Regions from separate parts of the Homo sapiens genome. Here all the other regions are linked to region 1. Evidence: fine-mapped expression QTL. A gene starts in region 1. Each other region holds a variant in brackets. All regions are shown on one strand. Distances are from middle to middle.

Evidence for each region. PIP is the estimated chance that this variant, and not a neighbour inherited with it, causes the effect.
Region 2: its variant is fine-mapped to the expression of ANO9 in putamen (GTEx, PIP above 0.99).
Region 3: its variant is fine-mapped to the expression of ANO9 in whole blood (TOPMed, PIP above 0.99).
Region 4: its variant is fine-mapped to the expression of ANO9 in whole blood (TOPMed, PIP 0.91).
Region 5: its variant is fine-mapped to the expression of ANO9 in whole blood (INTERVAL, PIP 0.96).

The regions. Positions count from the first base shown.
Region 1 is chr11:439,987-445,083 of GRCh38, reverse strand. ANO9 (anoctamin 9) reads left to right here and starts at 3,073. Exons shown (of 23, transcript NM_001012302.3): 1 at 3,073-3,163. The coding sequence starts at 3,158. It overlaps LOC105376506 (a long non-coding RNA gene), which reads right to left. Exons shown (of 5, transcript XR_007062542.1): 5 at 4,411-4,599. It also overlaps the pseudogene RN7SL838P. RefSeq lists enhancers at 1,675-2,472, 2,780-3,049 and silencers at 2,881-3,175, 3,220-3,299.
Region 2 is chr11:184,461-189,557 of GRCh38, reverse strand. It overlaps a transcript of SCGB1C1 not described here. Among named protein-coding and RNA genes, the nearest start is that of SCGB1C1, 6.1 kb to the left of the region's middle. The variant G/A (reference allele first, on the strand shown) is at 2,176.
Region 3 is chr11:401,462-406,558 of GRCh38, reverse strand. It overlaps PKP3 (plakophilin 3), which reads right to left. Exons shown (of 13, transcript NM_007183.4): 9 at 3,296-3,481; 10 at 2,788-2,941; 11 at 2,424-2,616; 12 at 2,236-2,323; 13 at 1,651-2,025. The coding sequence ends at 1,990. SIGIRR (single Ig and TIR domain containing) reads left to right here. Exons shown (of 10, transcript NM_001135054.2): 9 at 21-210; 10 at 500-843. The coding sequence ends at 663. Among named protein-coding and RNA genes, the nearest start is that of PKP3, 9.8 kb to the right of the region's middle. RefSeq lists an enhancer at 344-1,037. The variant G/A (reference allele first, on the strand shown) is at 3,014.
Region 4 is chr11:484,144-489,240 of GRCh38, reverse strand. PTDSS2 (phosphatidylserine synthase 2) reads right to left here. Exons shown (of 12, transcript NM_030783.3): 5 at 2,168-2,302; 6 at 1,771-1,821; 7 at 929-1,042; 8 at 594-712. Among named protein-coding and RNA genes, the nearest start is that of RNH1, 21 kb to the left of the region's middle. RefSeq lists a silencer at 1,233-1,373 and an enhancer at 4,383-4,904. The variant TA/A (reference allele first, on the strand shown) is at 2,385.
Region 5 is chr11:417,009-422,105 of GRCh38, reverse strand. ANO9 (anoctamin 9) reads left to right here. Exons shown (of 23, transcript NM_001012302.3): 16 at 908-965; 17 at 1,064-1,161; 18 at 1,246-1,388; 19 at 1,491-1,643; 20 at 2,377-2,524; 21 at 3,117-3,218; 22 at 3,293-3,386; 23 at 3,517-4,168. The coding sequence ends at 3,735. It also overlaps a transcript of SIGIRR not described here. Among named protein-coding and RNA genes, the nearest start is that of SIGIRR, 4.6 kb to the right of the region's middle. RefSeq lists an enhancer at 375-1,236 and a silencer at 4,875-4,924. The variant A/C (reference allele first, on the strand shown) is at 2,939.

The sequences.
Region 1 (5,097 bases):
CTCTTTTAATCTAGGAAAAATTTTTATATGTTTGTAGTCTGTTTTTTTTACTTAGCAGTATAACATAAGCATTTTCCTATGTTCTCAAAAACTCTTTGAAAGTATAACTTCTAATGTCTGCTTAATCAGCATATAAATATGAATACCATGTTTTCGCTGATATTTTCCTATTGTTGAACATTGGTGGTTTACAATTTTTGCTGCAAATGACATATATACATATTTTCATTATTTTGCATTTTTTTAGAACAGTTTACAAAAAGTTAGATTAATGAACCAAAGTCTAAACAATTTTAAGGCTCTTAATACGTATTATAGCTGAATTGCTTTCTGAAAGGGCTGTACTGGTTTTCTGTCCAGATAGGACTGGGTGGGGTCCCCCTCCCTCTCCACCCTTCACTGATCGTAAGGGAACTTCCACGCTGGGTGAGGCCAGCGGCCAATGCAGCCGCCTCGCTGAGCTCTCTCCCCTGAAGCTGGATATGCTGGCTTTACAGCCAGGACTCTGGAAGTGACTGAGGATTCCTCTGGTGACGCCCACGGAAGGTGTGGGGGGAGGAGGAACAGTGTTTCTGCAACGCAACTGGGAATGCTGAAAAAGTCATTGAAAGAGAGCACAGCAGCTGTGTGGACACTTGAAGTGGCGCCTGAGTAACTCACATGACCTGCTAGCAGATTGTTTTAACACACTGAAAACGTGGAGATTGTTTTATTATTTATTTATTGATTTATTTATTTTGAGACGGAGTTTCACTCTGTCACCCAGGCTGGAGTGCAGTGGCACGATCTTGGCTCACTGCAACCTCCACCCTCCGGGTTCAAATGATTCTCCTCCCTCAGCCTCCTGAGTAGCTGGGATTACAGGCGCCTGTCACCACGCCTGGCTAATTTTTTGTATTTTTAGTACAAATGGGGTTTCACCATCTTGGCCAGGCTGGTCTTGAACTCCTCACCTCGTGATCCACCCACCTCTGCCTCCCAAAGCTCTGGGATTACAGGCATGAGCCACCGCACCCAGCCGAAGATTGTTTTAACACAGTGTGAAAACATGAGCACAGAGACCCCTGAGCGGGCTGAGCTGGGGACTGGGGAGCGACACCCGTCACGGACGGTGCAGGGGCTGGGAACGTGGATCTTGCGTGTGAGTTCCTCCCATACTCAACAAGCCTTGCACATTCTGTTTCTGAACTAGATCTAACTTGGCAGCTGTGACCCCCTGGTGAGACTGCCGGATGTTCCCTCTCCCGCTTACCCTGCTTTCTTCCATGGGAAAAGAGCTCACATGCCCCAGGCTTCCTTGCCATAGAGTGTGGTCACGTGACTAACCATGTGAAGGGTGAGGTTCCCTCCTTCGCCCTTTCCTCTTCCCACTGGCTGGAACGTGGATGTGATGACTGGAGCTTGAGCAGTCATTTTGGACCAGGTGCTGGGACCATGTATTTAAGGTGGCAGAGCAACAAGCTGAAGGCATTCTGGGTCTCTGATGACTATAGTTCGGCCATACTAGTCCAGGACTAGCCAACTCCAGATTTTTGTTTTGCTTTGTTTTAAAGACAGAGTCTTACTCTGTCACCCAGGCTGGAGTGCAGTGGTGTGATCTTGGCTCACTGCAACCTCTGCCTCCCAGGTTCAAGCGATTCTCCTGCCTCAGCCTCCCGAGTAGCTGGGATTACAGGCGTGCACCACCATACCTGGCTAATTTTTGTATTTTTAGTAGAGACGGGGTCTCACCATGTTGGGCAAGCTGGTCTCGAACTCCTGACCTCAGGTGATCCACCCGCCTCGGCCTGCCAAAGCGCCGGGATTACAGGCATGAGCCACTGCGCCCGGCCAACTCCAGATTTCACTTATAGGAGAAATACACAGCTTGTTTAAGCCACCACCATTTTGCACACAGATCTGAATGTGTTCCATTTGGATTTGCCCCATCTGAGCTCACAGGTCCTCGGCCACCACTTCACTCGCTTGTCTTTGCCAAAGTGGCAAAGCTGTGGTCTCTGCTGCCATCCCAGCCTGCCAGGAGGTCCCCCAAGGAGAAACATGGGTGGGACCATGTTACCCCTTGGGGAAACCAGAGCCGACTGTTGGCCCTGGGCCTGGACCACAGCAGAGGGCTGCTGGGCTTGCCGGGGGGTGCTCTGGCCCCAGTGGGCCTGGAGCCGTTCCGTGTGACAGCGTCTGCCTGCGGAGCTCTGGCCCTGCCTCCCCAGCTTTGCAGCAGCTTTCAGAAGCAGACTCCTCGCCACACACGCTGCAGATAATGTGTGCCAGCCCACGGCCTGGGCCCCCACTCCCCGCAGCCCTTCCCTCCTCAGGGCACTCCACTGGACGGTCACTCTCAGGACACCCAGAGCCTGCCCAGCTGCCGCCCTCAGCCCAGGCTGCACAGAACGTGCTCAGGGACTGGGGATGCGGGGTGGAGGGCTCCTCCTCCGTTGTCTACACAGCCTGGGGCCAGCCACGTGTCCCCAGGACTCCAAGGATTCCCCAGTGGGGCCCAGAAAGCAGGGGCTTGGGTAGGAGCAGACAGTTTCTTTGGGAGTCTGTCTCGTCGTCAGTCCTCCTTGCCCCAGTTTCTCCTCTAAGGGAATCAGCACTGGACCTGTGGGGTGGGGGGCCGTGGCCCGGGGTGGGGGGCCGTGGCCCGGGGTGGGGGAGGCCGTGGCCCGGGGTGGGGGAGGCCGTGGCCCGGGGTGGGGGGCCGTGGCCCGGGGTGGGGGGCATGGCCTGGGGTGGGATGCTTTTGGAGGGAACATGGGGATGTGTGAGCGGGGGTGAGAGAGGCAAGGCAAGTGGGGGCGTTGGTGCTGGCTCTGTCAGGGGCTCTGTGCCATCCTGCTTCCCCCTAGGACCAGGTGTCATGAGACCCATCTCACAGTGGAAACCCCCTTCCCGGGAACTCCAGCCTAGGAATTCCCCTCTGGCCCCTGACCCGCCATCTGGGCTCCAGGAAGGTGTCCCAGGCTCCAGGGGCTGGGGTACTCTCCTGGCCTGGATGCTGGCTCCGCCCCGACTACACCCAGGCGCGGCAGCTGCAGGACGCTGGAGGAGGAGGAGGGAGGGGCGAGCCCCACGCGGAAGTCAGGTAGGAGCACCCGCCGCTGGCAGCCACTCTCCTGGCCGCCAAACCCCAGCTGGAACTCCGGCCACAGCCAGCATGCAGGTGAGTCCTGCGCTCAAAAGGGTCCACACCTTCAAGGCCCCCAGCCACGCCCACACCTGGGGCCCCCGGCCCCAGCCCCCCGCCAGCCCCACCTGGAAGGCGCCTGTGTGTGTGGGGGGGGTCCCTGCAGGCTGCCCGGTCAGGCGAGGGTGACCGCCCGGCTCAGCTAAGCTGCCTCCTGGACTCCTGGGGCACGCTGGGGGTTGGAAGTGCTGGAGGCGGGCGGCGTTCCTCCCTCCAGCCCGGGATTCTGAGGGCACCAGGGCTGGGCTCTCAGCTAGTGTGTGGGGCCAGGAACCTCTACCAGAGTCCTGAACACGAGATGGAGAGGGCCTGCCCACCGAGGCGGGGGCTGCTGCTGAGGACCCCAGACCTGGCAGCTTTGCCTTGCAGCTGGCCCCTAAGGGGGAGCGGGCTGTGGGCACCAGGCAGGCTGCCCCAGGGTTGGGAGCTGCAGAGTGGCCGGCGGGCTGTGGGCTCTCTGCTCCCCAAGGACCCCGCCCAGCACAGGTGGGGGCCGACTGCTGCTGCTGGATTCCGATTCTGGGGGTGGGCGCTGACTGCTGCTGCTGGATTCCGATTCTGGGGGAGGGAGTGCAGGTGAACACGTAGAAAGACATCCTTTCTCCCCTCTGCCAGTGAAGAGGTCACCTGGGGCCAGGGCCAACACCTGGGCAGGTCAGCACCTGGTCGGCCCAGGGAGGAGGCAGTGGTGAGGTGTGGAGTGAAACCAGCCTCCCTCTCGGCCTGCCAGGGCCTCCACGTGTGGGCTGCGCCGGCGGCCTCTTGCTCCATCTCCGCCCAGGGCTCTCCTCGGCCCTCCACATCCAGGTCTGACACCCTGGCTGCTCAGCCCAGCACCTGATGCCCCTTAGCCTGAGCTCAGGGTCCCCTCTGCCAGCCCCTTCCTCCCATGCTGGGGGTTAGAGGAGAGACTTGGGGCTGGCCAGGGGTTGGGTTGGGAGAAGCAGCACCTGGTTTGTTGGAAGTGAGAGCATCAGTCCTTCAAAAAAGACAGTTGCAGCCGGGCCTGGTGGCGCATGCCTGTGGTCCCGGCTACTCCGGAAGCTGAGGCAAGAGGATTGCTTGAACCCGGGCGTCGTGGCATGCACCTGCAGTCTCAGCTACTCAGGAGGCTGAGGCAGGAGGACTGCTCGAACCCGGGCGTGGTGGCGCGTGCCTGCGCTCCCAGCTACTCGGGAGGCTGAGGCAGGAGGACTGCTGGAACCCGGGCGTGGTGGCATGAGCCTGCGGTCCCAGCTACTCCGGAGGCTGAGGCAGGAGGGTTGCTCGAGCCTGGGAGTTCTGGGCTGTAGTGTGTTAGGCTGACTGGCTGTCCGCACATCAGTATGGTGACCTCCCAGGAGCAGGGGACCACCAAGTTGCCTAAGGAGGGGTGAACCGGTCCAGGTCGGAAACGGAGCAGGTCAAAACTCCTGTGGTGATCAAAAAGGACAGTTGCAGACATGGGGAGGACTTGCTAGTCCCAGCTCCAGGCTGGATCTGGGCGTGCCTTTCCTCTGCTCTAACCCCTTCCATGGCTCCCCACTGCCCCCTGCTGAAGTCCAAGCTCTCCATTTGGCCAAGAAGCCTAGCAGCCTCCCCTGATTGGCCTCTGCCAACCTCCAGCCTCCCCTTCTGGCAGCTCCCTTCTTGCCCTTTATGCTTCTGCAAAGCTGAAGTACCAAGGACTGAGTCCCTGGACTCAGTTTCCGTAGGTGCCGAGTGCTGAGTCACCAGGAGTAGTAGCTACCAAGTCCTCCTTGGAGGTGCTGAGTGCTGAGTCCCTGGGAGGTGCTGACTGCTGAGTCCCAGACACCAACTGCACCCTGATTCTCAGGGCGTGCCCACACATGTTCTTTCTCCCGGGAATGCTGCCCCCATTTTCTCACCTTTTGCCAACCTCTTGCCCTACAATGCCAAGCTCCATGCCT
Region 2 (5,097 bases), 260 kb after region 1:
CCCCCCAAACCCACAGCCTAACGACGTGCGTCTCTGCGCCTGCGCCGCGCCTCCCCCCGCCCCCCAGGGGACGCGCCACTGTGCGCCGGCGCCCGCGCGCCGCGCCTCTGTGCGCCTGCGCCGGCGCGCCGCGTCTCTGTCAATTTAGAAAGCTTATTTTGCCAAGATTAAGGACACGACCATGACACAGCCTCAGGAGGTCCTGACGACGTGTGTCCAAGGTGGCCAGGGTAGAGCTTGCTTTTGTACATTTTAGGGATACATGAGACGTGTAAGATGTACAGTCATTTGGCCCAGTAAGGCGGGACAACTGGAAGCAGGAAGTGGGGGTGCTTCCAGGTCAGAAGTAGGTTAGAGACAAAAGGTTGCATTCTTTTGAATCCTTCATCAGCCTTCCACTGAATACACAATTTAGTCTGGCTCAATGAATCTGCATTTTTACATAAATAATAGGGCAGAGGAAGCAATCAGATATGCATCTGTCTCAGGTGAGGGATGACTTTGAGTGCTGTCTGTCCTTTGTCCAAAAGGAAATTCTTTGTGGGCAAATTGTGAGTGAGGTATGTAGCTTTTTATCTTTGTAGCTATCTTAGTTAGGAATAGAATGAGGGCAGGTTTGCCTGACATAGCTCCCAGCTTGACTTTTCCCTTGGCTTAGTGATTTGGGGGTCCTGAGATTTATTTTCCTTTCATGGTATCAGAACAGAGAAAAGGTAATGCGTTGAGCCATGAGCTTATGACAAGATGGCTAGGAAGGAATTTTTCAGCTCCATTTTTATGTCATGGGACCACCATCATATGTATGCAATGCACGAGTGTAAAATCACATTTAGTTAAGTCAGCTTACACTAAGCTATGGACCCAGATGGTCCTGGGGCCTTTTTCCACTGGGAGATCTTTAAGGACCTTTCTTAGCTTTTCTATGCTAATTGGTATATTCATAGTTGCCTTATTTCAGGGCCCATTTTGTTAATGTGTATTTTTACTAGGAAATCACCCATTTTTTCTAGGTTTCCAGTTTGATGCAATTATTTGACTTTTAATTTCTCCTCTGTTTTTAGTTTTGTACATAATTTTCCTATCTACTTTTGCACTCTTTTTTCCATCAACAATATTTTTAAAATATACTTTTTAGCTTTTTTTGAAGAATTGTTATGTTTGACAATTTTTTATGACCTAATCATGACCGTAAATGATTTTTAATTAATTTCAGCTTAATGTCTTTTGTAGGGCACAACTGTTAAAATACAGAATTACAACAAATGTGGGTTTGCAGATCTTAATTGGCTTTTTTTTGTGGTTCTAGAATCAGGCAGCAGTCCAGACCAAAAATGGTTCAGAATGATCTGCCACACAACATGTGCGGGTTATATTTATAGCCAGAGGAAAAAAGTGACATACAGAAAACAGAAGTGAGGTATAGAGGTGGCTGGATTGGTTACAGACCTGGTTACAGCCCGGATTTGCCTTCTTGGAACTTGTTTTGAACAGCTGGCTGCCGGCCATTGACTGACACTCGGCTGATGTGATTGGCTGAACCGCCGCTATTTGTTACCATGATACATTCCCAAGTCAGATTTTCAGTTTGTTTCTATACTAAATTAGGTTGCGATTCTTCTTGTTCTTCTTCTTTTTTCTTTTTTGAGGCGGAGTCTCGCTCTGTCGCCCAGGCTGGAGTGCAGTGGCGCGATCTCAGCTCACAGCAAGCTCCGCCTCCCAGGTTCACGCCATTCTCCTGTCCCGGCCTCCCGAGTAGCTGGGACTGCAGGCTGCCGCCACCAAGCCCGGCTAATTTTTTTGTATTTTTTTTTTTTAGTAGAGACTGGGTTTCACCTTGTAAGCCATGATGGTCTCGATTTCCTGACCTCATGAGCCACCCGTCTCGGCCTCCCAAAGTGCTGGGATTACAGGCGTGAGCCACGGCGCCCGGCCGCGACTCTTTACAAGGACTCCTCGGGAGGCTTCCAGAGCCCAAATGTTGTTTGATGTAAGAATTCCTCCCTTTTGGTCAGCCTCTCAATTTTGAGATATTGATCAAAACTTTGGGCATTGGTGTCACTCTTTGTTGTCGTTGTAAATTGAGTTATTAGGACTTATTTGCTTTCAGTGTGGCATTTTCAAGTTTTATTTGGTCTCAGTGCCCTCTGGGCAATAGCAGAACACTGTGTTGTGTAA[G/A]GCGGAAATAGAGCAATAGAAAATAACAACTGATTTGTTAATATCAGATTACTTCAAGTTACTTGTTTTGGTAAGAATTAAAGCAGAGGGGACTTCTTTATGCTGACTCAGGTAGACTGGAATCTCTTCAGGGAAAAAGGGAGCTCTTTTGGGATCTATCTACTTCCTTAGAGTTTCAGCTTCGTTGTGTGTCATTCAGCGTGAGTGTCTCCATTCTGATTTTGCCTGCTCAGTGTGGCCTAGTGCGGGAGTGGTGACCGAAACAATGACCTCCCGTAGTTTGTTCCACAGTTCTCCCCTTTTGGTTGGGTTCCTGCCTAGGTGAGGGTGTGACTAAAACCTTAGGGCATTAGCGGTATTCTCAGTAACTATCATTTTAGGTTTCCGGTCTTAGGGCATTAGCACTATTCTCAGTAACTATCATTTTAGGGTTCCGGTCTTAGGGCATTAGCACTATTCTCAGTGACTATCATTTTAGGGTTCCGGTCTTAGGACATTAGCGGTATTCTCAGTAACTATCATTTTAGGGTTCCGGTCTTAGGGCATTAGCGGTATTCTCAGTAACTATCATTTTAGGGTTCCGGTCTTAGGGCATTAGCGGTATTCTCAGTAACTATCATTTTAGGGTTCCGGTCTTAGGGCATTAGCACTATTCTCAGTAACTATCATTTTAGGGTTCCGGTCTTAGGGCATTAGCGGTATTCTCAGTAACTATCATTTTAGGGTTCCGGTCTTAGGGCATTAGCGGTATTCTCAGTAACTATCATTTTAGGGTTCCAGTCTTAGGGCATTAGCAGTATTCTCAGTGACTATCATTTTAGGGTTCCGGTCTTAGGGCATTAGCACTATTCTCAGTAACTATCATTTTAGGGTTCTGGTCTTAGGGCATTAGCAGTATTCTCAGTGACTATCATTTTAGGTTTCCGGTCTTACGGCATTAGCGGTATTCTCAGTAACTATCATTTTAGGGTTCCGGTGTTAGGGCATTAGCACTATTCTCAGTAACTATCATTTTAGGGTTCCGGTCTTAGGGCATTAGCAGTATTCTCAGTAACTACCATTTTAGGGTTCCGGTCTTAGGGCATTAGCACTATTCTCAGTAACTATCATTTTAGGGTTCCGGTCTTAGGGCATTAGCAGTATTCTCAGTAACTATCATTTTAGGTTTCCGGTCTCAACACATCATTTAAGAAGTCAGTAAAGCTTTCTTCTACTGTGACAGCATATTTAATACTGAGAAAGAAAAGAAAATTTTTATCTTGCGAATGTGAGCTTCCTCTAAATTATCAGGTCCAGAGAGGCGTGGGAATGAGGCAGCAGTCACGTCCCATTTCCCTCTTAGCTAAGTAATCATATCTTGAAGCTGCTTGCTATGTAGACTAGACTGACTGTCATCAGCTATAGATTAACCTAAGAGTGTCTTTGAATATTTTTTCCAGTGGCAAATATTTGCTTCTGTTGTATCGTAGCTGAAAGGAATGCTGGGAAACAAAATAAAGACAAGCATTCATTAGAATAAGTGATCCAGTCACAATGAATCAATTTGAACTTTTTTTTTTTTCACAAAGTCATACTTTGAAAACTTCCAGCCGTAAATTGAAATAGTCTCCAAAATGTGAATTTTTTTCCCTGGTTCTAAGATGACCAGCTTTCTTAGAGAGTGAACTACACCATAAGAAAAATGATATGACCATGTTTACACATATATGTTATCTTAACATAAAACATGTAAAAGGGGCATTTCTTTGAAAGTATATATTAGTCTGTATAATTTACTTTGCAGTATCATGAATGCTCTTATTTTTAAAAGTAGGAGTAGTTACTGTCAATTACTAATTTTTAGTACAAATAATTTAGCAGATATCTGAAAAAATTACAATTTTTAAATAGAGGTTTTATTTTAAATTAGTTTTAGATTCATACAGAAATTGGGAAGAAAATGCAGATTTCCCATGTAGACGCAACCTAGTTTCCCCTCTTTTTAACATATCAACATGTATCAGATAGGTTTAACATCTTTTTTTTTTTTTTTTTCCAGACCAGGTTTTTTTTTTTTTCAACCAGGCTGGAGTGCAGTGGCGTGATCTCGGCTCACTGCAACCTCCGCCTCCCAGGTTCAAGCGATTCTCCTGCCTCAGCCTCCTGAGTAGCTGGTATTACAGGCGCCTGCCATCATGCCCGGCTAATTTTTGTATTTTTAGTAGAGATGAGGTTTCACCACGTTGGCCAGGCTGGTCTCGAACTCCTGATCTCAGGTGATCTGCCCGCCTCAGCCTCCCAAAGTGCTGGGATTACAGGCATGAGCCACCACTCCTGACCAACATCTTACATCATTTCTTGTCATACTTAATGACTGGATATTACTATATTATTAAATAAGCTCACATCTTATTTGGTTTCCCTTAGTTCTGCCTTTTTCTCTCCCAGGATCCTATCTAGGATCCCATAGGACATTTAGTCATCATGTCAGGCTCTTCTTGGCTGTGACAGTCTCTCAGACTTTACTTCTGAGGACCTGGAACAGTGTTAGGAGGATTGGTCAGGTATTGTGTAGAATGTCCTCCATTGTGGTTTACTTGGGGTTTTTCTCATAATCAGCCTGGGTTTAGGGGTTTGGGGGAAGCAGAGCAGATGTGTAGTGTGTCCACAAAAAGAGTCAAAGACTGTAAAATATTTGAAGAGATGTATTCTGAGCCAAATATGAGTGACCATGGCCCTTGACACAGCCCTCAGGAGACCCTGAGAACATGTGCCCAAAGTCGTTGGGGTGCAGGTTGGTTCTATACATTTTAGGGAGATAGGAGACATCAATCAAGTGTATTTAAGATATATATTGGTTCGGTCCAGAAAGGTGGGACAACCCAATGGATTAGGGTTGGGGGGTGGGGCTTCCAGGTTATAGGTACATTTAAAATTTTTCTG
Region 3 (5,097 bases), 39 kb after region 1:
CGCCCCGACCTGGCCCCCAGACTCCTTCCTCCGATTTTTGGAAAGAAGTGCAGCTGGCGCTGCCGCGGAAGGTGCAGTACAGGCCTGTGGAAGGAGACCCCCAGACGCAGCTGCAGGACGACAAGGACCCCATGCTGATTCTTCGAGGCCGAGTCCCTGAGGGCCGGGCCCTGGACTCAGAGGTGGACCCGGACCCTGAGGGCGACCTGGGTATGCCCGCCCAGCCCCACTCCCCAACTGGAGAAGCTCAGCACAGGGCGGAGTGGGGGCAGGCACAGGGCACAGGGCCTGGAGGGGCTCCAGGTGTTGAGGACTCTTCCCGGCACCGGGAGCCCCTGCACGGCCTCTGCCCTGGAGGTGCTCGGCCCTCGGTCTGCCTGGGAACTTCCTGGGCCTCACAGGCCATCACAGCAGGGGGTGAGCAGGGGCAGCCCCTGGCAGTGGGTCTGGGCCAAGGCTGTGGGTGGCCACCTCAGGCGTCTCGGTCTCCCCACCCCAGGTGTCCGGGGGCCTGTCTTTGGAGAGCCATCAGCTCCACCGCACACCAGTGGGGTCTCGCTGGGAGAGAGCCGGAGCAGCGAAGTGGACGTCTCGGATCTCGGCTCGCGAAACTACAGTGCCCGCACAGACTTCTACTGCCTGGTGTCCAAGGATGATATGTAGCTCCCACCCCAGAGTGCAGGATCATAGGGACAGCGGGGGCCAGGGCAGCGGCGTCGCTCCTCTGCTCAACAGGACCACAACCCCTGCCAGCAGCCCTGGGACCCTGCCAGCAGCCCTGGGAAAAGGCTGTGGCCTCAGGGCGCCTCCCAGTGCCAGAAAATAAAGTCCTTTTGGATTCTGCTGGGGCCTCGGTCTCCTCCCTTGCGGCGGAAGGTTTCGGATTCGGCTTCCCTCTGCGGCTCTCTCAGCCTTCCACCCCTCCTCTCTCATCCCCACCCCTCCCTCTCTCATCCCCACCCGCCAAATCACCAAATCTGCCCTCTCTCCATCCCCCTTCCTAAGCCAGCTCAGGCGTGTCCCGTGCTTACAGTAGCCTCCTTGGGCCTCCTTGCCTGGTCCCTGGTTGGGGACGTGACTCTTCCTAGACCCTTCCCATGCAGGCAGATCCTGGATGGGGGCAGGCTCCTTAGAGACCTCAAGTTCTGAGCTTCACAGAAACTTTCTGTTTTAAGAATATCCACAGTAACTTCACAACTAAATGGCCTGGCTCTGGGTGAGATGGATGGGGGTGTCCGAGAGCCCACTGGACCCCAAACCTCAGGCAGCCAGTGTGAGAGCCCCTGGTCCAGGCAACTCCAGGCCCAGGGTGGGCGGCGGAGGAGTTGGGTTCATTTGCCGCATGAGTGTAGCCCACGAGGCAGCCACCCTGTTCCTACTCCAGTCACCCCTCTACTCTCGAGGCCCCCAGCTCTGCTCCGTCTGTGCCTGTGGTGCACCCGCTGTCCACCCTGTCCCCTCTCGGCCCTGAGGTGCCAGCTGTCCCTCTGCTGGGCTCTCCATGTCCTATGTCCTCTGATCTTGGGAGGCTTGTGTGTGAGCCCAGGGGGTGGGTGTCCTCAGGGGCAGGGGGTGCCTGGGGACACCTTGAGTCCCAGGATCATGCTGCCAGCCACAGGGTCGGGCCAGCCATGGAAGGACACAGGGCAGTGACTGTTCATGGCCATCTTTATTCCCAGTGCTGGCTATCCCAAGATACTGCCAGGCCACAGCCAACCCCCACCTCTGCCAATGTGACTGGGTCACCACCCCATACACCAGAGCAGCCTTGAGCCCTGCCCCACCCCCTGCCCTGCGGAAGCCAAGTCCCCAGCTATAAGACCCTGCCCCTCCTGGTGGCCCAGGACCCTCAAAGATGCACACAGGGGCCCCAGCGAGGGGCCCCTCCGTCATTAGCCTTCTCCTCCAGGCTGGGCTGCCAAGCAGCCTGGAGCTGAGTCTGTCCCTTGGACGCTGGGCCACGTCACCTTCTCCTCCAGAAGGCTTCACCTATGGGCCCAGGAAGTCCTCCTTCCGATAGCCCTTCTACAGTGGAGAGAGGCCCAAGGTCAGGGTGCATGTCTGCCCATGTGGCCCTCTGCCCGCTGTCCCTCCTGCAGTGTGCTGGGTGTGGCCCGGACCCTTCCTCTCTGGGTCCCTGGTCTCCATCCTCCCATGGGCCTCTTCACTGACCCTCCCCCGGCGTCCCATGCCCTGCACCCGGGTCCCTGCTTGCCCTGGGCTCGGGAAACGTACCGCCCGGAAGTCACGGTGGAGCTTGTTGTACTGCCACAGGTTGGCCAGGAGGCTGGATGCTGCCCGGGAGGACTTCTCACTGTCGGGGCTGAGGGTGGAGGGCAGTCAGGAGGGGACACACAGCCAGAAAGCAGGGTGGACTGGGAGGACCCCTGACCAGGCTGCTGCACGGCTGGGTCGGCCCCTACCTGTCCCGCTTCTTCTTGATGAAGATGAGCTTTCGGAGTCCGTCAAAATACAGCAGGTCTCGGGCAGCGATGGGGCTGGCCACCACCAGGTTGTTGAGCACAGCTATGATGTTGACCAGCACCTCGGCTGGGGGCGACTTCTCACCCACGCTGCCCGGCAGCTTCTCGATCAGGTGGCTCACCACCTTCGTGGCTGTGGGAGGCCGGGGGTCAGTCTGCACCCCTACTCCTGGCCACCTGGGCACCTGGGGTCCCCTGCCTCCCCCAGGGAGCTGGACTGGCCCCAGTGGTCTGAAGCCCACACTTAAAGACAAAATTGACATGTGGGTCCAGCAGGGCAGGGACGAGGGGCTGCCCGACTCACACATCTCGTCCTTGTTCCTAGCGTTCCGAGACAGGTTTCGGATGAGGCCAGTCAGTGAGCGCAGCTGGTGGTGGTCGGCGGTCCTGACACGGTCTAGCAGGGGGTTCAGAATACGCTCCTGCTCCAGGGCCAGGCGGCTCAGCACCCCCGCCCACTGTGGGGAGGGAGGGTGTGAGCCGTGACCCGGAGGCCTCAGACCCTCACCTGAGGGGGTCCTGCCACAATG[G/A]GGTCGCTGCATCCTCTCGCCACCCTCAGGGGGGCCTCTGCTTCTGCCTTTGCCCCCCAGCCGGGGGGAATCAGCCGCAGCCCGGATCAGGTGCCTCCCTTCAAACCCAGGGCAGGACTTCCATCCTCCCAAGGCCCAAGGCCTGCGCCACCGGGACGCTGACCTCCGAGGCTCCGCGGACCCTGGGCGTCCCCTTCCTCCTCCCCTCCCTCTCCCTCCTCTGTCCCCCCCTCAACCGCATGAACCCCTGGGACCCCCTCGGGTCTGGGTTGGGTGCCCCACCCTGCGGTCGCCTGCCGTGATGTTCTGCAGCGCCCCGGCGGCCGCCTCCGTCGTGTGCCGGTTGAGCTCGCAGCGCTGCAGCAGCCGGTTGTACAGCCCCACGATCTGGGGGCTCCACAGCCACTCGAGGCCCTTGGGGTCCTTGGACACCTCCGCGAAGGTGAGCGCATCGGCGGCGAGGGGCAGCTGCGCAGGGCGGGGAGGAGTCGGCGGGGTCGGGGTGAGCGGGTCGGGGTGAGCGGGTCGGGGTGAGCGGGTCGGGTGTGAGTGGGGCGGGGGTGAGCGGGGTCCGGGGTGAGCGGGGCGGGGGTGAGCGGGGCCGGGGGTCGGGGGTGAGCGGGGTCCGGGGTGAGCGGGGCGGGGGTGAGCGGGGTCCGGGGTGAGCGGGGTCGGGGTGAGCGGGTCCCGGGGTGAGCGGGGCGGGGGTGAGCGGGGCGGGGGTGAGCGGGGCCGGGGGTGAGCGGGGCCGGGGGTCGGGGGTGAGCGGGGTCGGGGTGAGCGGGGCCGGGGGTGAGCGGGGCCCGGGGTGAGCGGGGCAGGGGTGAGCGGGGCGGGGGTGAGCGGGGTCGGGGTGAGCGGGTCGGGGGTGAGCGGGGCCGGGGGTCGGGGGTGAGCGGGGTCGGGGTGAGCGGGTCGGGGGTGAGCGGGGCCGGGGGTCGGGGGTGAGCGGGGTCGGGGTGAGCGGGGCCGGGGGTGAGCGGGGCCGGGGGTCGGGGGTGAGCGGGGTCGGGGTGAGCGGGGCCGGGGTCAGTGGAGCCGGGGGTGAGCGGGGCCGGGGGTCGGGGGTGAGCGGGGTCCGGGGTGAGCGGGGCCGGGGTCAGTGGAGCCGGGGGTGAGCGGGGCCGGGGGTCGGGGGTGAGCGGGGTCCGGGGTGAGCGGGGCCGGGGTCAGTGGAGCCGGGGGTGAGCGGGGCCGGGGGTCGGGGGTGAGCGGGGCCGGGGGTCGGGGGTGAGCGGGGTCCGGGGTGAGCGGGGCCGGGGTCAGTGGAGCCGGGGGTGAGCGGGGCCGGGGGTCGGGGGTGAGCGGGGTCCGGGGTGAGCGGGGCCGGGGTCAGTGGAGCCGGGGGTGAGCGGGGCCGGGGGTCTGGGGTGAGCGGGGTCGGGGTGAGCGGGGCCGGGGTCAGTGGAGCCGGGGGTGAGCGGGGCCGGGGGTCGGGGGTGAGCGGGGTCCGGGGTGAGCGGGGCCGGGGTCAGTGGAGCCGGGGGTGAGCGGGGCCGGGGGTCGGGGGTGAGCGGGGTCCGGGGTGAGCGGGGCCGGGGTCAGTGGAGCCGGGGGTGAGCGGGGCCGGGGGTCGGGGGTGAGCGGGGCCGGGGGTCGGGGGTGAGCGGGGTCCGGGGTGAGCGGGGCCGGGGTCAGTGGAGCCGGGGGTGAGCGGGGCCGGGGGTCGGGGGTGAGCGGGGTCCGGGGTGAGCGGGGCCGGGGTCAGTGGAGCCGGGGGTGAGCGGGGCCGGGGGTCGGGGGTGAGCGGGGCCGGGGGTCGGGGGTGAGCGGGGCGGGGGTGAGCGGGGCGGGGGTGAGCGGGGTCGGGGGTGAGCGGGGTCGGGGGTGAGCGGGGCCGGGGGTGAGCGGGGCCGGGGGTGAGCGGGGCGGGGGTGAGCGGGGCGGGTGTGAGCGGGGCCGGGTGTGAGCGGGGCCGGGTGTGAGCGGGGCCGGGTGTGAGCGGGGCGGGTGTGAGCGGGGCCGGGTGTGAGCGGGGCCGGGGGTGAGCGGGCCGGGGGTGAGCGGGGCGGGTGTGAGCGGGGCGGGTGTGAACGGGGCCGGGGGTGAGCGGGGCCGGGGGTGAGCGGGGCGGGTGTGAGCGG
Region 4 (5,097 bases), 44 kb before region 1:
GACTCTGTTCCTGGTTACCCAGCTGCTGCCCGGCTGTTCTCCGAGGTCTGGCCACCCAGCTACAAGCCCTGCTTCTCCACGGCCCTCTGCTGTTCAGTCTCTTCCAGCTTGAGCAGTGGCTGCAGCGCCTCAGAGGGCGCTCCACGGTGCCGTGAGCTAGCCATGTCTGCAGAGCCAGGCAGAGCCGGGGCACCCACAGGCAGGAGGGGAGACCCCCGTCCCCCAGGCCTTTCCTTAGACTTCTGTTTCTTTTTTAAATTCCAAAGTCATAATGACAAAGTACCTGCAACTATTTCATAACCAAAGCAACCAAGGGAGGGAGAAGCACGGAATGATCCCACAGCCCCTGCGCCAGGCCGGCCAGGGATTGAGGAGGGAGGTACGTGGGTCAGACGCCATGGCCACTGTGAGGGGCGGCCGGGCTTGAGTGACACCAGGTCAGAGGGAGGTTCCAGGAGGCAAAGCCCCACGGTCACCCCTCCTGAGCCGCACACTGGACGGGCCTGGTGCTCGGGGTCTGCTGGAGCACGGACGCTGAGGCTGCCTCCAGGTAACCCCCACCCGGCCCTGCCCTCGCAGCCCCCACGACGTACTTGTAGGTCGGAATGTTCCAGAGGCCCTGCCACTTGTACGTCTTCAGGGACAGCCACTCAAGGGTCTTCATGCCGCAGTAGATGCCCAGCCCGTTGCAGACGAGCACGTCCATGATCCACTGCAGGGAGGGGCCAGCACTCGTTGCAGGGGTGAGGGGTAACGAGCCCCCCGAGGAGGACCCCGGAAGAGCACAGGGGAACCGAGAATGCCCCTCAGCCTGCACCCACTGCCCCCCGGGGAGAATGAGGGGGTCCAGGGGCCGCGCTGGGCACAGGGGTTCCGAGAATGCCCCTCAGCCTGCACCGACTGCCCCGGGGGCTGTGCTGGCACCTACGTGATCCCACCAGCACTCGCTGAAGTTGGGCAGCTGGTGCTCCAGGCTGTACTCCAGGAACTCGAACATCACGCTGATGATCATGCACATCCACCAGTCTCGGATCATCAGGGTCTGTGGGCGCCAGGGTCAGCCAGAGTATGGGACGCCGGCCACACCCGGCCCTGCCCACGGGTGCGTGCAGCCCCCACCCCGGCTGGCAGCCAGAGTATGGGACGCCGGCCACGCCCGGCCCTGCCCACGGGTGCGTGCAGCCCCCACCCGGCTGGCAGCCAGAGTATGGGACGCAGGCCACGCCCGGCCCTGCCCACGGGTGCGTGCAGCCCCCACCCCGGCTGGCAGCATTCTTGGAGTCGACAGCACTGGCAGGGCCCCCAGTGAGGTCTCAGGGTGAGCGTGGGGTGGGTGGCTGCCCCTCCAGCAGCCTCGATGTACGACTGTCAGCAAACAAGGCAGCATCCCCGTGCCCGGGGCCTGACACCAAACTCTGCCAGGGTGGGCTGCAGGGTCAAGCAGGCACTGCTCTTAGCCCCATAGGTAGCACAGGGTCCCTCAGAAGTGGGATGGGGCAGTGCCCAAGCCCAGGCAGGGGCGGGACTTCCTGCCCTGCCGCCTCTTTCCACCGCCCCGACCCTGAGGACGGAGCGGGGACCCGACCAGGATCAGGGCTTCTGGGAGGTCCGGGAGCCCCACGGCTTCTCGAACCTCTGGGTGGCTGCAGTGCGACACCCTCCCACCACACTCAGAGCACCCTGAGCTCAACTCCATGGACAGAAACGGTCCAGAGCCCACGGCAGGCCTCAGAACCGGGGCGGGGAGGCCGGGAAGAGGAGGTGCCGTACCTTCAGGTACCAGCCAAGAAAGTGCGCGGGAACAAAGCCATCCAACTTGTCCTGTGGGCGACAGGGTATGACCCTTGACCCTGGGGCACAGCCACCCCCACTCCCCACACCGGCAGATCAGCCCACACCTGAGCAGCACCTGCCAGACCCCGGGAAGAAGGCCAGGGACTCACAGGTGCTGCCGTGGCCTGTGGAGACCACGTCCACGACAGCCTAGAGAGCAGGGGCCCCCTGCCCACCATGAGCACCATCCAGACGGACAGGGCCTCAGCACATCTCTGCACCAGGAGACCCCAAGTGTGGGCTGAGGGGTGCGAGGCAGGAGCGTGGATGGCGCCTGGTCCGGCACGGGGCCACACCTGGGGAGGGGCTCGCCTCAGGGCCCCCGGCGTCTTACCCAGATGTTGTGAAAGGGGTCAGTCTCATTGTCTGGGTCGTAGATGAGGCAGTTTCCCCCGTAGTCTCTCTCTGGCAGTGGGACTCCCAGCTTGGGGTCAACATACTTTAGAAACTGCCGGCCGTCCTGGACAGTCTGCAAGGCCAGTGCCCCCGTCAGCGGGGCTACAGTTAGTGGTGGCAACTTGAAACGGGAGATCATGGTTGTTTATTTATTT[TA/A]TTTTTTTGAGATGGAGTCTCGCTCTGTCGCCCAGGCTGGAATGCAGTGGCGTGAACTGGGCTCACTGCAAGCTCCGCCTCCTGGGTTCACGCCATTCTCCTGCCTCAGCCTCCCGAGTAGCTGGGACTACAGGCGCCCGCCACCACGCCCGGCTAGTATTTTTTTTTTGTATTTTTAGTAGAGACGGGGTTTCACCGTGCTAGCCAGGATGGTCTTGATCTCCTGACCTCGTGATCCGCCCACTTCGGCCTCCCAAAGAGCTGGGATTACAGCCGTGAGCCACCACGCCCGGCCAGGAGATCATGGTTGTAAACTGCATCTCAGTCACCCTGGAGGAGGGCAGCGCCCTGTCTCAGCAGCCCTCCCCACCCCAGGGAAATCCTGGTGGGGCAGCGCGTGGGGAAGGAACCCCCAGGCACGACACCCCATCTCCACACCTGCGCTCCCCGGGGCCAGGTGGGCACAGGTGCGCTTCAGGACATGGGGGTCTAGGACCGCTGGACAGACGGGAGCGGGATGGGGCCCTGAGTTACTGCGGCGCGCCGCCCCCACCCCGACCCCTCCCCGCATGCGCGCTCAGGCCAACACCCTCACAGGAGTCGCCCTTGTGGAACCTGCTCTTTCCTCACCCAGACGCTGGCATCAGCCAGATACACCTCTTGACCTTAGGGCAAGGCAGGCTTTTGGGCCTGACGTCAAGGGAGGTTTACATCATTTACAGACACCTGTGCTCACAGCACACACGCACCAGGGCACCAGCTGTGTTTACACTCGCCTGCGCACACGGTGAACACACACGCCCGTGCACTGTTTACACTCGCCTGCGCACACGGTGAGCACGCGCGCCCGTGCACTGCTTACGCTCGCCTGCGCGCACGGTGAGCACACGCGCGCCCGTGCACTGTTTACGCTCGCCTGCGCGCACGGTGAGCACACGCGCGCCCGTGCACTGTTTACGCTCGCCTGCGCGCACGGTGAGCACACGCGCGCCCGTGCACTGTTTACGCTCGCCTGCGCGCACGGTGAGCACACGCGCGCCCGTGCACTGTTTACGCTCGCCTGCGCGCACGGTGAGCACACGCGCGCCCGTGCACTGTTTACGCTCGCCTGCGCAGTGAGCACACGCGCCCGTGCAGTTTACACTCGCCTGCGCAGTGAGCACACACGCGCCCGTGCGCTGTTTAAACTCGCCTGCGCACAGTGAGCACACACGCGCCCGTGCACTGTTTACACTCGCCTGCGCAGTGAGCACACGCGCCCGTGCAGTTTACACGCCTGCGCACACGGTGAGCACACGCGCCCGTGCACTGTTTACACTCGCCTGCGCACACGGTGAGCACACGCGCCTGTGCAGTTTACACTCGCCTGCACAGTGAGCACACACACCCGTGCACTGTTTACACTCGCCTGCGCACACGGTGAGCACACACGCGTCCGTGCACTGTTTACGGTCGCCTGCACACACACAGCACACATGCCCATGCACTGTTTACAGACGCCTGCGCAGTGAGCACACACGCGCTCGTGCACTTACACTCGCCTGCGCACACAGTGAGCACACACGCGCCCGTGCACTGTTTAAACTCGCCTGCGCAGTGAGCACACACGCGCCCGTGCAGTTTACACTCGCCTGCGCACAGTGAGCACACACGCGCCTGTGCAGTTTACACTCGCCTGCGCAGTGAGCACACACGCCCGTGCACTTACACTCGCCTGCGCACACAGTGAGCACACGCGCCCGTGCACTGTTTACACTCGCCTGTGCACAGTAAGCACACGTGCCCGTGCAGTTTACACTCGCCTGCGCACACAGTGAGCACACACGCGCCCGTGCACTGTTTACGCTCGCCTGCGCAGTGAGCACACGTGCCCGTGCAGTTTACGCTCGCCTGCGCACACAGTGAGCACACACGCGCCCGTGCAGTTTACACTCGCCTGCGCAGTGAGCACACACACGCCCGTGCACTGTTTACAGACGCCTGCGCACAGTGAGCACACGCACCCGTGCACTGTTTACACTCGCCTGCGCACACGGTGAGCACACGCGCCCGTGCAGTTTACACTCGCCTGCGCACAGCACACACACCCGTGCACTTACACTCGCCTGCGCACACGGTGAGCACACGCATCCGTGCACTGTTTACGCTCGCCTGCACACACACAGCACACACGCCCGTGCAGTTTACAGACGCCTGTGCACACAGTGAGCACACATGCCCATGCACTGTTTACAGATGCCTGCGCAGTGAGCACACACGCCCATGCACTATTTACAGATGCCTGCGCAGTGAGCACACACGCGCCCGTGCACTGTTTACACTCTCCTGCGCACACAGCACACACGCACCCCTGCACTGGCTGTGTTTACAGACGCCTGCACACACAGTGAGTGCACACATGCCCGTCCTCTGTGAGCTATGGCACCCAGGACCACGCAGCCCACCCAACACCCAGGCCTCAGTTCCTAATATTCAGTAAGGACCCAAGGCTCTTGGAGAAGGGGCTGATTCCAGGACCAGGGTGGGGAGTGGACAGGAGGAGCCTGGAGCATCCCGCAGTGCTAGGAAGTCAGGATGTCCTCAGAAAAACAAAACGAAAAGCCAAGAACTCCGTGAGGGTGTGTGAAAGCAATACAGGAACCACGTGGAAATTCCTTTTGGCAAAAGAATTTGGGCACCACGATAAATAGAGCAGCGCTGAAATAAATATGC
Region 5 (5,097 bases), 23 kb after region 1:
AGCTTTGCCGCACACGGAAAAGCCAGTTCTGCTGGATGCTCGTTTTGTATCCACTTGAGCACTCGATTGATTTATCCACCCAGGCTTTCAGTTGTTTTATTTTGATTTTCCAGGTACATAATCATGTTTTCTAAAAGAGTCATTTTTTTCTTTGCAAATGTATACTATTTATACTTCATATTTCTCTTGCTTATTTGCAAGGAATTCCAGAACCGTGTTAAATACCAGTTGTCGTGAGCTACAATAGGAATGCTTTTGGGATTTCACCACTGACCATGAGCCTGACTTTTGGTTTAAGATAGTTCATGTATTTCTCATATTATGGAAAGCAGGTGATTTTAAACACAAAATAACCCATCGTGCCGTTTCCACGGGGAGAAACCGAGGCCACTCGTAACAGACACTGTCTGGAGCGTGTGTTGGAGCCTGTGGCCTTGCCTGTGTGTGTGTGTGTGCGCCCACGTGCAGGTGCGGTTCGTCTGGGAGCCTGTGGCCTCCCCTGTGTGGGGGTGTGTGTGTGTGTGCGCGCGCCCACGTGTGGGTGCGGTTCATCTGGGAGCCTGTGGCCTCCCCTGTGTGTGTGTGGGTGTGTGTGCGCCCACGTGCAGGTGCGGTTCGTCTGGGAGCCTGTGGCCTCCCCTGTGTGGGGGTGTGTGTGTGTGTGCGCGCGCCCACGTGTGGGTGCGGTTCATCTGGGAGCCTGTGGCCTCCCCTGTGTGTGTGTGTGTGTGTGTGCGTGCCCACGTGCGGGTGCGGTTCATCTGGGTGTGAGCACCTGTGCCCCGCTCACCTGCAGGGCCTGCCCCGCCTGTTCTGTGTCTTTCCTACCCGCTTCTGTCCTGCTGCACCCACCCTGTCAGAGGCAGGGCGCTGCCCGCAGTGCCCCAGACTTCCCCTTCCTCCCCAGGATCAACGGCCACCCCGGGAAGTCCACGCGCCTGGCGGGCTTGTGGAAGCTGGAAGAGGTCAGTCACCCCCAGGCTTCATGCCCTGTCCCTGAGCCACTGCTCCCCTGACCGTCCCCCAGGACCCCTCCCTGATCTCCTCCTGTCTGGCCCCGCAGTGCCACGCCAGCGGCTGCATGATGGACCTCTTCGTGCAGATGGCCATCATCATGGGCCTGAAGCAGACGCTCAGCAACTGCGTCGAGTACCTGGTCCCGTGAGTGCCGACCCCCGCCCAGCCCCGGGAGCCCCAGGCCCCTCCGCCCCCTGCGCCCTCCCTGCCACGCAGCTCTCCCCGCAGGTGGGTGACCCACAAGTGCCGCTCTCTGCGGGCCTCCGAGTCCGGGCACCTGCCCCGGGACCCCGAGCTCAGGGACTGGCGGCGCAACTACCTTCTGAACCCGGTCAACACCTTCAGCCTGTTCGACGAGTTCATGGAGATGAGTGCGTGGGCGCTGCGGGGCGGGGGTTCGCGGAGACGAATGCGGGGCGGGGGTCCGCGGACATGAGTGCGGGGCGCCGGTGAGCCTGACCCCCACCGCGCAGTGATCCAGTACGGCTTCACCACCATCTTCGTGGCCGCCTTCCCGCTGGCGCCGCTGCTCGCGCTCTTCAGCAACCTCGTGGAGATCCGCCTGGACGCCATCAAGATGGTCTGGTTGCAGCGGCGCCTGGTGCCGCGCAAGGCCAAGGACATCGGTCAGACCGGGCGGGCGCAGGATGGGCGGGAACTGGGCGGCCTCAGGCCTGTGGGCTTCCCGCTGGCCAGGCCGGCTCACCTGGAAAAAATAATCTCTCGGATCTCAGGCCGCAGACAGCCCCCAGCCCTTCTCCGACGGCCTCGGATGCGGGTTGAGCCTGGGTGGGAGGGTACCAGGAGTGGGCGGGGCCGAGCGCTTTGTAGGCTCCTCCCACAAACCGTCAGGATCTCAGAGGGGCTTGACGCCCCCAAGGGGGACCCAGGTTCTGCCAGTGGCTGGGGCTGGAACAGAGCAGCCGGCCTCTGTCCCAAGACTGGCCACGCTGAGACGGACAGGCAGCAGGGGAGCGACGGGAGCTGGGGCGCTGGATGTGGGGAAAGGGAGAGAGGTGTTAGGGAGGCCCCCAGTCTCGGGCCCAGGTTACAAGGTCTTACCCTGGGGTGGGAACCCAGGAGGTGGAGTGGCTGGGGGGCACAGCTGAGAAGTTCAGGAAGATGGAGGATGAGGATTCCCAGGTTCCTCCCTGTCCATGTCAGGGTGAGGGGTGCAGGAGCGCAGAGGCCATGCTCTGCCATGGCTGGGGACTTCCTTGTGAATACTGCAGCCCTAGGGCTGCAAGGGGACACCACGCACAGAGACACGGCAGGCCCCGTGTTGGCCGGGGGTGGGGGTGAGGGCAGAACCAGCCGAGGGACGCTGAGTCAGACCGCTTGCCCACTGCTCTGGTGCAGGGACCTGGCTGCAGGTGCTGGAGACCATCGGTGTGCTGGCGGTCATTGCCAATGGGATGGTCATTGCCTTCACATCTGAGTTCATCCCCCGAGTGGTCTACAAGTACCGCTATAGCCCATGCCTGAAAGAAGGCAACTCTACTGTCGAGTAAGGCCTCAGGGTGTCTGGAGACCCCTGGGAGAAACTGGCCCTACCACAGCCAAGCCCTGGGGGATCCAGACCCTTTCTCCTGGGAATGGCTGGACCTGTTGGTACCCCTGGGGCTTTAGTGAGGCTGGGGCCTGGGGGTGGCCCCTGCCCTGCGCCCACTGACGGCAGGCCCTGGGCTGGAGGTCAGGGATAACTGGCCAGGACCGCAGTTGGGGGTGAAGTTCCCAGACCTGGCTGCCTCCTGAGTAGGCCCTGCCAGAACGGCTCCCTCCCGATGTGAGGTTCCGCATGTCCTCTTCTGATTTATCCAGCTCTCTGACCTCGAGGAGCCACCAAACTGCAGACTGGGTCCCCAGGGCCAGTCTCTGGCAGGGAAAGTGGCTGGTGATGCCCAGAGTCCCCACAGTCCCC[A/C]CAAGGCCCCCGGATGTGAAGATGTGCTTGGCCCGGGAGCCCCGTCCCACTGGACGCAGTCTGTGGCGTGGCCCCCACCTCACTGTTTGCTCCACAACGCAGGCTAGAAGCACTCTGGGGCCTGAAGGGGCCGCCCTGGAAGCCCACCCCACCCCACACTCCTCTCCCCTCTCCCCAGCTGCCTCAAGGGCTACGTCAACCACAGCCTGTCCGTCTTCCACACCAAGGACTTCCAGGACCCTGATGGGATTGAGGGCTCAGAAAACGTGACTCTGTGCAGGTTTGGAACTCCCCATCCCCCAAGAATGCCCTCTGAACTCCTGACCCCTGACCTCAGGTACTTCCTTACCCCAGATACAGGGACTACCGCAATCCCCCCGATTACAACTTCTCCGAGCAGTTCTGGTTCCTCCTGGCCATCCGCCTGGCCTTCGTCATCCTCTTTGAGGTGAGCCAGAACCGGGAGAGGCCTCGGAGTGGGTCTGGGCAGTGCTCTCCCCAGTCCTTCTCCCCGGCCCTGAACCCCCAAATGCCAGCTGGCACCTGACCGTGCTGGGCCTCTCCTGTGCTGCCGCTAGCACGTGGCCTTGTGCATCAAGCTCATCGCCGCCTGGTTCGTGCCCGACATCCCTCAGTCGGTGAAGAACAAGGTTCTGGAGGTGAAGTACCAGAGGCTGCGTGAGAAGATGTGGCATGGAAGGCAGAGGCTGGGTGGGGTGGGGGCAGGCTCTCGGCCCCCAATGCCTGCCCATCCCACCCCAGCATCCATCTTCAGTGCCAGGAGCACAGACGTGTAGGGCCAGAGCCCGTCCAGAGGCCACCAGGAGCTGAGACAGTGCCACCACCAGCACCTCCCACAAGCCCACCGCTGTGCGTGTTGAGGGGTGCTGTGAGAAGGCTGTGCCCATGTGGGGCCGCAGGAATCCCCTGTATGTTCAGGGCTGTGAGCTGCCACCCTATTCCGCCTGCTCCGTCTTTGTGGGGGCTCTCAGGCTTGGCACAGCCCTGACTTGAACTCTGGGTGACCCTGGGCACCCACAGAACTGGGAGTGAGGGCTCCTCAGGCAGCCACAAGGCAGGAAAACTGGCGCAAATTTCCTGGGCCTCCCTCTGACTTCTGGGCGCCAGATCCTGCCGTGCCCCCATCCTGGCTGTTGGGGGTGTCCTGAGCCCACCTCGCTGGCCTGTTCCCTTCAGCCAACCCGTTTCTGCAGTAAAATTAAGCCTGTCTGTCTTGCTTTCCTGGCCTCGCTGGGTCCCGGGTGGATTATATCTGCCCTCAGGGCTAGATGGGAAACAGACCCGGAGTGTGGAACGTCTGGAACCAGGTGAGGCCGCCTCAGGCCGCCTGTCCCTTCTCCAGTTTTCCATGGGCTTCCAAGGGAGGGGCGCCTATGGGGTCCTCTCCCCGTCCCTGCACCTGGGGTGTTGAGGGAGGCAAGAGAAGACATCGGGGCCACTTGAGGGTGGGGTGGGGGTCAAGGCAGGCTTCCTGGAGGAAAGGGAAGAGATAGGGGCGGACGCGCAAAACCTTGAGGGCGGTGGACGCTCCGAAGAGTCCCCAAGGCTCTGGGGCTCCGGGGCTCTGCGCGCTGGTTGGGCTGGTTTGGCCACTGGCCCCAGGCCCGTGCGGCAGCGGCTCCCGGGCAGCAGCGCAGCCTCCAGCGCCAGCCTTGGGCGCAGAGCGGGACGCTGGGGTCCGCCCCCGCCCTGACTGCGGGGCGGGGCCGCACCTGCTGCCGCTGCCGGGGCTACGCCGCCGCCGGGGCTGTTGCCGCTGCGCACCTGGCTCAGGTGAGCTGCCCCGCCCCCGCCCGGCGCGAGCCCCAGGTCCTGGCAGCAGGTGAGTGGCGGTCGCCATCAGACCCGCGAAGGTGAGTGGAGGTCGCAGTCCTCCCAGAGCCGCTGCAGGCCTGGAGTCGGGGCCCGGGGCGCTGCTTGTCCCTGGGCGCGGTCTCTCAGGAAATGGCTCGGGGCCGGGGAGGTTCCCGCGTCGCCCGGAAGCCCGAGCTCGCCCGCGTCCTGGCCCTTTCCAGGGCTGGGGGAAGGGAGGAAAGTGGGCGAAGGGGGCGGGGGCCACCCTTTCCTCTGCCCGACGTGGTCAGCGGCTTTTTGGTGACCCTCGCGCAGAACAGAGCGGGGCTAGGAGCGCCGAGGCG